Regions from separate parts of the Homo sapiens genome. Here region 1 is linked to region 2. The links come from fine-mapping of genetic effects on gene expression. Tissue or cell type: unexposed skin. Region 2 holds a variant in brackets; the other region holds the start of a gene. All regions are shown on one strand. Distances are between the middles of the regions.

Region 1 (5,000 bases), 29 kb before region 2:
GGGGGACCTGAATCAGCTTCATGTAGAGTCTTAACATTCTGAGCTCCAGGGGAAGTGGGGAAAGAGGAGTGGGATTTGATAAGGCCCAGTCCTAAGTTTCTAAACCAACTCTAAATAAAATGAATAATAACACTGTCTACCAGATATTATTCGAATCAGTTTATTTGTTTTTTTGCAACAACCCCCTCTAAAACCCAATGAAAACGAATTTCCAGATGATCTCAATGTGAGATAAAAAGCAATGTTTATCTTCACATGCATATGAGGATTTAGACTGGTTCTCTCAGACCCAATGCCCTTCCATTTTTTTTTCCCACCTCCTCTCCGCCTACCTTGGACAAATACTAGGAAAAGGGGCTGTGAACTGTGTCCTTGGATGGTGTGGGGAGATCACAGTTAGCAATTTTTTGTTTACCTAAAAGCCAGGAGCCACTGGGTCCTTGGCCTGCTTAGATGCACGCTGCCGCTTCTGACTAGGTCAGAGCACAGCACAATGATGAGGAAATTACTTTCACCTTGACCTTTAAGGCACTGCTGGCGTCAGGCTATTTAGTATGGACGCTTCTGTTGACATTTCTGACTGCCCCTTTTGCGAAGTGAAAAAAAACAAACAAACAAACAAAAAAAAAAACTGGAGGTCAAGAGGAAGGAAGGATGGGTTAAGGAGTCAGCATATACAAGTCAGATAATGTGAAAAGTATTTTATAAGAGCTGCTATCGGGATGTTGGTTATTACCAAGGAAAAATGTGTCATCCTTATCCATCTATAACTACTGAACAGTAACTAAGGAAAGAAATTCACTCATCCTTTCTGCTTTTGCAAACCTCCTGTTTGCAGGAGCTTATCAGGTAATGTTGTCTGTCTGGACTGTGAATCAGATGCACAGTTCACCCACAAACATAAATACCTATGAAAAAGAAATATAATTTCTTTTAGACTCACCCAGAACTTGCAAGCTTTAAGTACATGGTCTGTGAAGTCAGGAGAGGAACTATACTATTGGCTGAAATCTAATCTTTAACTTAATTGGCCAGGAAGACAAATAGCAGGATTAAAACACACGAATAATAGTAATAATACCTATTACTTGTTTAGAGCTGGGCACTGGGCTAAGTGATTTATGTTTTATTTTATTTAAAACTCAGACAAGCCCATAAAGTAGAAACAGCTCTCCCTATGATGAGGATGAGAAAACGAGGCTTCGAGAAATTACTGTAAAGAAATTCCCCAAGGTCAAACAGCTTATAGGAAACAGAACTCAGACTAAGACAAGTTTATTGAACCCTATTTTTCTATAATTTTAACCCATCCTTTATACATACAATTGCATAGTTCTGCAAATATGCCTAAAATTGCAAAATGTAACTGATTAAAGTCTTCAGCAGAAATTTTATAATAGAAAATTTTAATATTTCTCTGTGAATTAGTGACTTTATGTGTTTCTATTCCCCACTATTTCTACTTCTCTTTTTAAAGACATAGAAATATATGTATGTATAAACTTTTTAAAAGCTATGCACACACACACACAAACAACCTGTTTGTGATTGTGTATATGAGCTGTGAATAATCTTCTGATGCCCCCTCCCCCCCACCCTTAGGGTCTCTTTCACTCACATTGTCTATATATTTTCCAATTTTTATCTTTCTCTTTCCTAACTGATCTCTCTTTTATAGGCCATAATATGAAGCTAAATTATATTCTTATTTATCGTGGTCATCTAAAGGAGTGTTTGCTTTCTGTTCCAGGTTTTTTTAATGAGACTAAATTAACTTTTATATTTTGTGGGTTTGCAGGCTTAGTCTGCTTTTATAGTATATTATTTGTGTCCACATCTATCACTTTTATTGTAAAGTCTTTACTGGGCAGGGAAAGCGCCTTTCCTATCTTTGTATGTTCCACAAGACTTAACACAGAGCTTGTGATAAACATGAATAAACGAAATCAAGTAATTAAGGACTCAAAAGCCTGGGCCTGGCAGTGTTTCCATAGCAATTGGTAGCAGGAAGCGACGAGGCTGAGAATCACAGACCATCTTCCATAAACTTGATTCTGTCTCCAATTTTGGTCGCAAGTTGCTTGTAGGCCCACCAGACACAGCTGAGGGGTGGGAGGGGGCATGCGGAGGGGCGGACACTGAGCTGAAACCTATTTTACCTCAGCGAGTTTGGATCCAGGAGCCTTTCCAACCTATCGTTCGGGAAGGCGTTGTGGGAAAAGTGGGCGGAGGTGCCAATCGATCCTCCAGTCTCGGCTCTATCCTCCCCCAGCCCGGTTCCCGGTCATCTCAGGGACCGTCTGGTAGCTGATCCCGGAACGCAGCTGGCCAACGGATAAGTGCGGGGCACCCGCCACCCGCGCGGACCCAGGAGCACCTCCCCTACCGCATCCCCCTCCTCCCCACCCCCAGGTTCCCTCGGCTCGCGGCCCTCCGCGTCCCGGGCTCCCGCCCCAGAACCTGTGGGCAGATGTTTCCTCCACGCAGTACCCTCCCGGGGCTCTGCCTCCAGGCTCGCGTCCCAGCACCCTAGGCAGAGGTTTCCCCCACTCTGTCCTCTCCCGGGGCTCTACCTCCAAGCTCCCGTCCCTGCCCCTGGGCACAGCTTTCCCCTACTCTGCCCTCTCCAGGAGCGCTATCTCCAGGCTCCCACCCCAACCCCCCGGGCAGAGGTTTCCCCCATGGCCCCCCTTCCGGGGCTCTACCCCAGGTTCCGGTCCCTCACTCCCGAACACTCCGGGTGCCCTCACCCAGCCAACCCTTGACGCGCTTCCACATACCACGTGATCCACACAGCTCACTTTGATCTCTCGGGGTGACCAAGCTTAAGTTTCCTTATCTGAAAAGTAGGGACACTAGTCTCCATCTCGTTTACTCGGGATGGGACAAGACGACCAAAAAAGAGAGGATTCCTCATCAGGTTTATTACTCGTTGCCATTCTTGCAATGATTACCGCCCCCGTTGCTGTGGTTGGGGGAGGCGAGCAAAGGGCAGCGGCTGCGAGCGCCCGCCCCCGCCCCACCCTCCCAGCCCCGGACAGCGCAGGCTGCGGCTTTTCGTCCTCCACTGAGTCCTGCCGGTGGCCCGAGCCCGGTGGCCTCCCGGCGACCCTCGGCGCGAGGCGACATGGCAAGCGGCCACAGCCTCCTGCTGGAGAACGCGCAGCAAGTGGTGCTGGTGTGCGCCCGCGGCGAGCGCTTCCTGGCGCGGGATGCGCTGCGCAGCCTGGCGGTGCTGGAAGGCGCCAGCCTGGTGGTGGGCAAGTAAGTGGCCGGGCGCGCAGGGTGGGGACCGCCACGGGCGGAGCTGGCCGCTCTTCCTCTCACTGTGCACTCTGGAGGGAAACAACGCCGTGAAAGCGTCCCTGCACAGAGATACACGGGCAAGCCAGCCTTTGGGGTACCTGTTGCTAACACGCTCTGCTGCTTGGGGTTGTCATTCCGTCCAAAGAGCTCAGAGAGGAACACCCCATTGGAACGCATCAGGGTCCTGCCTCTGCTGGTAAAATATCACTGTCCAACCATCAGAAGGGGTTGAGGTCCTCCCCAGTGCTTCTTAAAGGGAGGCCAGAAGACCACCTTTGTCAGGGTGGCCTGTGGTTATTTTATTCTTACGGCAGATTTCTGATTCCACCTGCGTCCCCCACTCCCTATCCCTAGAATTTTAGAATCAGCATCACTGGGGCTGGAGTTCTGAGACCTGAATTTTTCAAAAGTACCTTTCACATCCTCGTGATCTCGTACACTAAAGCTTTAGAACCACGGAGAACATTTAGACGATAATGGCCCTGAGTGATAATAAATCAAGATTTGACCATCAGAAAACAAGATATTTCTCTTACTCATCTGAGCTTCCTGCCAGATATGAATAAAAGAACAAAGTTTGAGGGCGACCTGGGGTAGCAAGGGAAGTTGGATGAGAATTTGAATCCAAAGCGTGCCATGGGACCACAATTGCACACGATCAATGAGTCTCACAAACTGACCACGGCTTATCTGAGGCAGTTTAGGGTTGTGCAAGAGCCCAGCTTTTAAGGGACTGTGGGTTGGTTTAATTTTATTTATTTATTTATTTATTTATTTATTTATTTATTTATTTATTTTTGAGACGCATGAGCCACTGCGCCCAGCCTATTTTTTGTTTTTTTGAGACAGGGTCTAGCTCTGTTGCCCAGGTTGGAGTGCAGTGGCATGATCTTGGCTCCACCTCCCAGGCTCAACTGCGATCTCCACCTCCCAGGCTCAAGCCATCCTCCCACCTCAGCTTGACAAGCAGCTGGGACTACAGGTGCACGCCACCACGCCAGGCTAATTTTTGTATTTTTTGTAGAGACAATGTCTCACTGTGTTGCCCAGGCTGGTCTTGAACTCCTGGGCTCAAGCCATCCACCTGGTTTGGCCTCCCAGTGCTGAGATTACAGGCGTGAACCACCACGCCCAGCTTGACTGGTTTATTTTTAATTAAGGGATGAAAACATTCCCAATTTACTATGAAAATATTATTTAAAATTTTGCTTAGAAAGTTGAAAAATATGTACCTGGGTTGGGACTGGAGTATCTTATAAAAATTATATCAATGCGACCAGGCACAGTGACTCACGCCTGCAATCCCAGCACTTTGGGAAGCTGAGGCAGGTGGATCACCTGAGGTTGGGAGCTCGAGATCAGCCTGGCCAACATGATGAAACCCCATCTCTACTAAAAATACAAACATTAGCCGGGCATGGCGGCGCACGTCTGTAATCCCAGCTACTCGGGAGGCTGAGGCAGGAGAATCGCTTGAACCCGGGAGGCGGAGGTTGCAGTGAGCTGAGATCTCGCCACTGCACTCCAGCCTGGGTGACAGAGCGAGACTCTGTCTCAAAAATAAATAAATAAATACATAAATAAAATGATACTAATGCACCAACATGAAGTCCTGGGTTCCAAGACATGTTCTATGTTCACATCAAAACCACAAAAAGTAGGGAAAGGAAAAGGAGGGAGCTGACTTGTGGTCT
Region 2 (7,327 bases):
GGGTGAAACACATTTTACAGCTCTCAATAAATGTTTGCTGTCGCTCTTATTGTTGTTGTTTCCTTTCAGCCTGGAAGTAGATCAGCAGCGTTGTCTATTAGAGTTTTTAGGAAATTACAAAATTATTTGTAAAGAGTCGATAATTATTTACATATAAATGGGTGTTTTTAAAAGCCATGTAAGTTGATTTGAAATCTTTTTAAGTGTTTCGATCATCTTTATAATCACAACTGCATTACCAAACTTGGTAAGAAATGATTTGAGAAGTAAAGATTAACTCTCCAAGTGATCACTAATTTCAGTTTAATAGAGCCTGAATGAATGAGGCTTTGCTGTAGTCAATATAAAGCAACTCAAAATGCCCCTCACTGGAAGGTTAAGGGTAACATTGCACATTGTTGTCATCATGAGAGGTGACAGCATGCTGGCAGTCCTCAGAGCCCTCGCTTGCTCTCGGCATCTCCTCTGCCTGGGCTCCCACTTTGGTGGCATTTGAGGAGCCCTTCAGCCCCCCTACTGCACTGTGGGAGCCCTTTTCTGGGCTGGCCAAGGCTGGAGCCCACTCCTTCAGCTTGCAGTGAGGTGTGGAGGGAGAGGCGTGAGCGGGAACAGGGGCTGCGTGCGGCGCTTGCGGGCCACCTGGAGTTCCGGGTGGGCGTGGGCTTAGCAGGCCCCGCACTCGGAGCAGCCGGCCAGCCCTGCTGGCCCCGGGCAGTGAGGGACTTAGCACGCGGGCCAGTGGCTGCGGAGGGTGTACTGAGTCCCCCAGCAGTGCTGGCCCACCAGCGCTGTGCTCGATTTCTCGCCGGGCCTTAGCTGCCTTCCCACGGGGCAGGGCTCGGGACCTGCAGCCCGCCATGCCTGAGCCTCCCACCCACTCCATGGGCTCCTGTGCGGCCCGAGCCTCCCTGACGAGCATCACCCCTGCTCCACGGCGCCCAGTCCCATCGACCACCCAAGGGCTGAGGAATGCGAGCCCATGGCGCAGGACTGGCAGGCAGCTCCACCTGCAGCCCCGGTGCGGGATCCACTAGGTGAAGCCAGCTGGGCTCCTGAGTCTGGTGGGGACTTGGAGAGTCTTTATATCTAGCTCAGGGATTGTAAATACACCAATCAGCACCCTGTGTTTAGCTCAAGGTTTGTGAGTGCACCAATCAACACTCTGTATCTAGCTGCTCTGGTGAGGACGTGGAGAGTCTTTTTTTTTTTTTTTTTCTGAGACGGAGTTTCGCTCTGTCGCCCAGGCTGGAGTGCAGTGGCGCAATCTCGACTCACTGCAAGCTCCGCCTCCCGGGTTCACGCCATTCTCCTGCCTCAGCCTCCCGTGTAGCTGGGACTACAGGCGCGCGCCACCATGCCCGGCTAATTTTTGTATTTTTAGTAGAGACGGGGTTTCACCGTGTTAGCCAGGGTGGTCTCGATCTCCTGACCTCGTGATCCGCCCGTCTCGGCCTCCCAAAGGGAGAGTCTTTATGTCTAGCTCAGGGATTGTAAATACACCAATCGGCACTCTGTATCTAGCTCAAGGTTTGTAAATACACCAATCAGCACCCTGTGTTTAGCTCAAGGTTTGTGAATGCACCAATCGACACTCTGTATCTAGCTGCTCTGGTGGGGCCTTGGAGAACCTGGGTGTGGAAACTGTATCTAACTAATCTGATGGGGATGTGGAGAACCTTTGTATCTAGCTCAGGGATTGTAAACGCACCAATCAGCGCCCTGACAAAACAGGCCACTAGCCTCTACCAATCAGCAGGATGTGGGTGGGGCCAGATAAGAGAATAAAAGCAGGCTGCCCGAGCCAGCATTGGCAACCCGCTGGGGTCCCCTTCCACACTGTGGAAGCTTTGTTCTTTCGCTCTTTGCAATAAATCTTGTTACTGCTCACTCGTTGGGTCCACGCTGCTTTTATGAGCTGTAACACTCACCACGAAGATCTGCAGCTTCACTCCTGAGCTCAGCAAGACCACGAGCCCACCGGGAGGAACGAACAACTTCAGACGCACCATCTTAAGAGCTGTAACACTCAGCCCGAGGGTCCGCGGCTTCATTCTTGAAGTCAGTGAGACCAAGAACCCACCAATTCCGGACACAATCACAATGGGGTCTCTGGAGCTCTGAACCTCATGCGATTATTTAAGAAGTCTTGAGACAGTGTAGGGGGCACACAGTTGCTGTGTGTGATGGCTCCCCTGTGACCAGTCACCTAGGCACTGAACATTTGGGGCGCAGGAGATACACATAAAAGCCAAAACGGAATGTTAGGTCGAGTCTTCCCTGGAACTCAAGCAACACAAGATTAGATTCTTCTATTGAAGAAACAAGAAGGAGAAGCACATCTGATTTTTCATCTAGGAGGCACTCACTTTAAACAAATAGCATTCATGCCTTTTTTGAAAGAAGACAGAAAAAGACATCTACCCAAACTGCCCTAGTCCTCCCAGGCCAGCGTGCTGCAAGCCCGTGCAACTGACGGAGTTTGCTAGGAATGCAGAACCTCTGGCTGGACCCAGACCTGCTGAGTCCGAATCTGCATGCTAATAAGCCCCGGGTGATTCACATGCACATTAAGGTCTGAGCAGCTCTGAGTTCTAAGCCCTAATCACACCAATCTTCACACTGTTCCTTAGGGGACAGTGAGCTGCTCAGGGCCATGCAATACGGTTCCCTCTGCCCAGAATGCTTTCCTTCTCTTCCTTACATGGGAAACTGGAGCTGGACGCCCTTCCCCACATTCCCACATCTCTATGATAGCCTTTGTAGCATTGTAATTTAACTGTCTTTTGTATGTTAGACTAATGAAGTCTACCCTCTGGGCTGAAACTAATGTTCTCCAACTATTTTTTACATTTACATTTACATTTACAATGTTTACATTTAATAAATTAATACTCTCAACAAAAGTAAGCAAAAAGGCAAAATGAGTTGGGAGCAGTGGCTCACGCCTGTTATCCCAGCACTTTGGGAGGCCAAGATATGTGGATCCCTGGAGGTCAGGAGTTCAAGACCAGCCTGACCAACATGGTGAAACCCCATCTCTACTAAAAATACAAAAATTAGCCGGGTGTGATGGCGCATACCCGTAATTCCAGCTACTCGGTAGGCTGAGGCAGGAGAATTGCTTGAACGCAAGAGGCAGAGGTTTGCAGTGAGCTAAGGTAGCATTATTGCACTACAGCCTGGGTGACAGAGCCGAGACTCCATCTCAAAAAAAAAAAAAAAAAAAAGCAAAATGAACCATAAAGAGAACCATAAAGTTTAATAAAAAGCAATCCAGTGACCAGACCCAAAAATCAGACACAGGTTTAAAGCAGTATGAAATGTATCTGCTTTTGAATTTTGCCGGTTGTAATGACTTTTTTTTCTTTTTCTTTTCTTTTTTTTCTTTCTTTCTTTTTTTTTGAGATGGAGTCTCACTCTGTCACCCAGGCTGGAGTGCAGTGGCACGATCTTGGCTCGCTGCAACCTCTGCCACCCAGGATCAAGCAATTCTCCTGCTTCAGCCTCCCGAGTAGCTGGGATTACAGGCACCTGCCACGGTGCCTGGCTAATTTTTGTAATTTTAGTAGAGACAGGGTTTCACCATCTTGGCCAGGGTGGTTTTGAAATCCTGACCTCGTGATCCACTCACCTTGGCCTCCCAAAGTGCTGGGATTACAGGCATGAGCCACTGCACCCAGCCTGTGATGGGATTTTATGCATGTGGTAGATTGTCAGATACAGGCCCATGGATCACGTCAAATCACATGCCCATGCCCTTGAGTGTTACCCTCCCAAATTGACTCTGGGCCTGGAACGTGACTCGCTTTAGCCAACAGGACATTAGCGAACGTGGCACAACAGGGACTTGAAAAGCCCTTGTTCTTTAGGGTTTGCCTCCTCCAGCTGCCCTGAGACAACTTGTGACAAAGACCAGGTGAGCCTGCGGGGCTGGGGAGGAAATCCTGATACCTCCAACTCTTTTGTTGCTAGCCAATGGGAAAAAGAGTGTACTGAGTCAAGCATATTGTTCTTAAAACGGTTGACATCTGTCAACTGAATCCTTCAGAAGCTTGATTAACTGCTGTTAGAGGCGCTTAACTTTGCTATAAATACCTAAGAATAAAGCGACACCATAAGGCAATTGAGACTTAGTTTATTCCATGTTTCCCTTGAAGTTCCCTTGAAGGCGTGTGCTGTCAGTTACTAATAGAGCTGTGTAGAAAACTCAGTGACAAAGTGTCATTTTGACCTGGAGGGCTGCAGGGGCTGAAAGAATCCAGCATTCCCCAAACTGGAGCGAAGAGCACCATGAGACCACTGGGGGTTACTGGCTCAATGGCAGCCCACGGATGACAATGCACAAACCTCATTTGTGTGTGTTCACATTTTGACAAGGAATAGCACCAAGAACAACCTTTAGGTAAACAGTCTCCTCAGCACATTTTTTGCTCCCTGAATTGCTGTG[T/G]GCAGCAGTTTTCACTTCAGTTTCCACCTGACAGGTTGTAAATCTAAAGGGTGAAAACTCTATTGTGAAATCCACTGTTCGGCCCATTTTAGATGGCAATTAGGTAGGCAAGGTGGCAAGTGTGTCTGTCCTCCTCTCCACCAGCTGTGGTTTTTAGAGCCACGGTTTCAGACCACTTGAAGGGCCTTGCACATATATGCACACACTGGTGCAAAGTCACAGAGCTTAGACTTGGGAAGCCAAGAGGTCATGTGACCCATCCTTCATCTGGACAGATACACTTAAGCCATCCCTGAAGGTCCTTTATCTTCTCGGGGAAAAAAATAGATGCAGTAATACACTCTAGGGCTCCATCTGACCTTTATCAATAGGACTTATTTTAATGATTACCATTACAGAAAGGAGGTTGGTTAATCCCCAAAGATTCCTTATCTGTGAAATGAGGAAGGTTACAATAAGAATGTGAATAGAGTACTAACACCAAGGAAGTGAAAATACTAACCTCAAACTCCCATGTAAGCATTTGGGGGATACGTGTAGTGATAAGTACAAAATACACAGTTTAATAAGAGCCACCCAAATAGCAATCTTTATATTCATTCCTTATCTCCTTTGCACATGAAACTCCTTGTTGGTTTTAATCACCTCTACAATTAATAGCTGAAGACCCTATTGACTACTCTTTACTATGATCCAATTAATAGAAGAAAAAAGCAGCTTAAGGACAAATTATGACTTAAAATGGTTATTTATGAAGGCATATTAAGGCATATCATGCAAAGTAAAATTAGCCAAAGAAAGTCAACTGGTGGAGAGCTTGTTGAAGCAAATTTAAAAAAAAAAAAAAAGGTTAACAAAAGTCTAATGTTTTTAGAAAAAATTGCTATCAATCTGTTTCCAAATTTGAATTCATCTAATGCTAAGAGTAAAAAACAGGCACATACAATTGTGGTTATTCTTCTCACCCTTAAGAGTGAGTGGCCTGTTGAAACTGTTAAGAAAGAAAGAAAAGTTTTATAATCTGAAAATACCTGGTGGGTCTTGAACCACGACAACAGGAACACAGTGCTGAATTTAGCAACTATAATACTGCCATCAGCCTAACCAACGTAGGCTTTAGAAGAACTGAATGATACAATGGATTGATCTACCTAGGAAAGTTCTCAGGTCTCTCCTTCAGCCTAGTATTGCTTTGTGCTAAACTGACTGCCCTCTCATCTGCTACTTCATGACAAAGCCCATTAAAGGTCCTCAGACTCCGGGATTTTGGTGGATTTCTTGTGCAGAAATTGCAGTGAAAAGGCTGTTGGAGAAAGAGGTCTTGATTCTGGAATATGCTCCATTCTGTATTTTTCAATGTATGGAGCAGCTACTTCCCAAACCTGAAAAGCAAGGACAAAACAAAGTTGAAATATTGACGACATTGTTTCCACATGCTATTAAACATCAACTTCATCCGAAGTCAAAACATACTCTATACATGACCAGACACAGCTGCTGTTTGCTTGCTTTTATTTTAAGCCATTTGACACATGACCTGTGTCAATTAGTCTTTGGTTGCATTAAAGACTGTAAATATACAAAGTCCAAAACTTTCTAAAGTCATCATAAAGATTTTAAGCTGCATACTTTTCCTAAGCAAAACAAGCAAGCAAATAACAAAACCCAGAGAATTCAGTGTGGATAGAGTGAAGGATAGTTGCTCCAGGGTCTTAACAGTACCTATGTGGTTTTTTTCTTGTTTTTTTGTTTTTTTTCTTTTTTTGTGAGACAGAGTCTCACTCTGTCGCCCAGGCTGGAGTGCAGTAGCATGATCTCAGCTCACTGCAACCTCCACCTTCCAGGTTCAAGCAATTCTTGTGCCTCAGCCTCCTGAGTAGCTGGGATTACAGGTGCATGCCACCAGGCCCAGCTAATTTTTGTATTTTTAGCAGAGATGGGGTTTCACCATGTTGGCCAGGCTGGTCTCGAATTTCTGGCCTCAAGTGATCCACCCACCACAGCTTCCCAAAGTGCTGGGATTACAGGCGTGAGCCACCACACATGGCCTGGACCTGTGTGTTTTCTAAAGCAAGCCTTAAATGGTAAAAGGCAGTGAATTGTATTTCCCTATTGCCTTATTTCCATGCCACAGGTGCTCTGTTCCTTTGACCCTGCTACTCAAAGCGTGGCCTGTGCCCCTGCAGTATCAGCATCACCTGGGACAAGTCAGAATCTTGGCCTTCACCCAGACCTACTGAATCCACACCTGCATTTTAACAAGATGCCCAGCAGATTCATAGCCACTTTAATGTTGGAGAGGCACTGCCTCAGATCCTTGGTTAGCTTTTGCCTCCCACCCACCAACCTCTTTTTTCTTTTTTTTTTTTTTTCTTAAGCATAACATCATCTCAAAGTAAGGCCCTGGACGGGCATGGTGGCATGTGCCTGTAGTCCCAGCTACTCAAGAAGCCAAAGTGGGAGGATCACTTGAGCCCAGGAGTTTGAGTCCAGCCTTGGCAACATAGCAAGACCCGCATCTCTAAAAAAATTTTTTTTTAAATTGAATGAAATTAAGGCCCTGTTTTTGGTTTATATCTGCTTTTTAACTGATTGCCACTGACAGCCAAGGAGCCTTTCCTATTATTTTTTATGACCTTAGCAAATGAATACTCTTAAAGGCTAACCTCTCGTATACCTCCCTCCTAGCACCAAAGTTGGCAGCAGGCAAGCAGCTTCCCCATCCAGAGTGCAGGGCATGCTTAGAAATAATGGGTGTGAAAATCACAGGGAAAAATCACTGCCCCAGAGCAGAGCAACTGTTTTAAGGAAATCAAGCGATTCTAGGGAACATAACACCCACAAGTTATTCAAAAGGTTTAAAGCACTTCAAAAACGATA

What was found. PIP is the estimated chance that this variant, and not a neighbour inherited with it, causes the effect.
Region 1: AMDHD1 starts here. The variant in region 2 is fine-mapped to the expression of AMDHD1 in unexposed skin (GTEx, PIP 0.99).

The regions. Positions count from the first base shown.
Region 1 is chr12:95,940,272-95,945,271 of GRCh38, forward strand. It overlaps AMDHD1 (amidohydrolase domain containing 1), which reads left to right and starts at 3,060. Exons shown (of 9, transcript NM_152435.3): 1 at 3,060-3,264. The coding sequence starts at 3,128. CCDC38 (coiled-coil domain containing 38) reads right to left here and starts at 2,343. Exons shown (of 16, transcript NM_182496.3): 1 at 2,160-2,343.
Region 2 is chr12:95,968,544-95,975,870 of GRCh38, forward strand. It overlaps HAL (histidine ammonia-lyase), which reads right to left. Exons shown (of 21, transcript NM_002108.4): 21 at 4,119-5,829. The coding sequence ends at 5,689. AMDHD1 (amidohydrolase domain containing 1) reads left to right here. Exons shown (of 9, transcript NM_152435.3): 9 at 1-177. Among named protein-coding and RNA genes, the nearest start is that of HAL, 24 kb to the right of the region's middle. RefSeq lists enhancers at 1,562-2,207, 2,208-2,853. The variant T/G (reference allele first, on the strand shown) is at 4,448.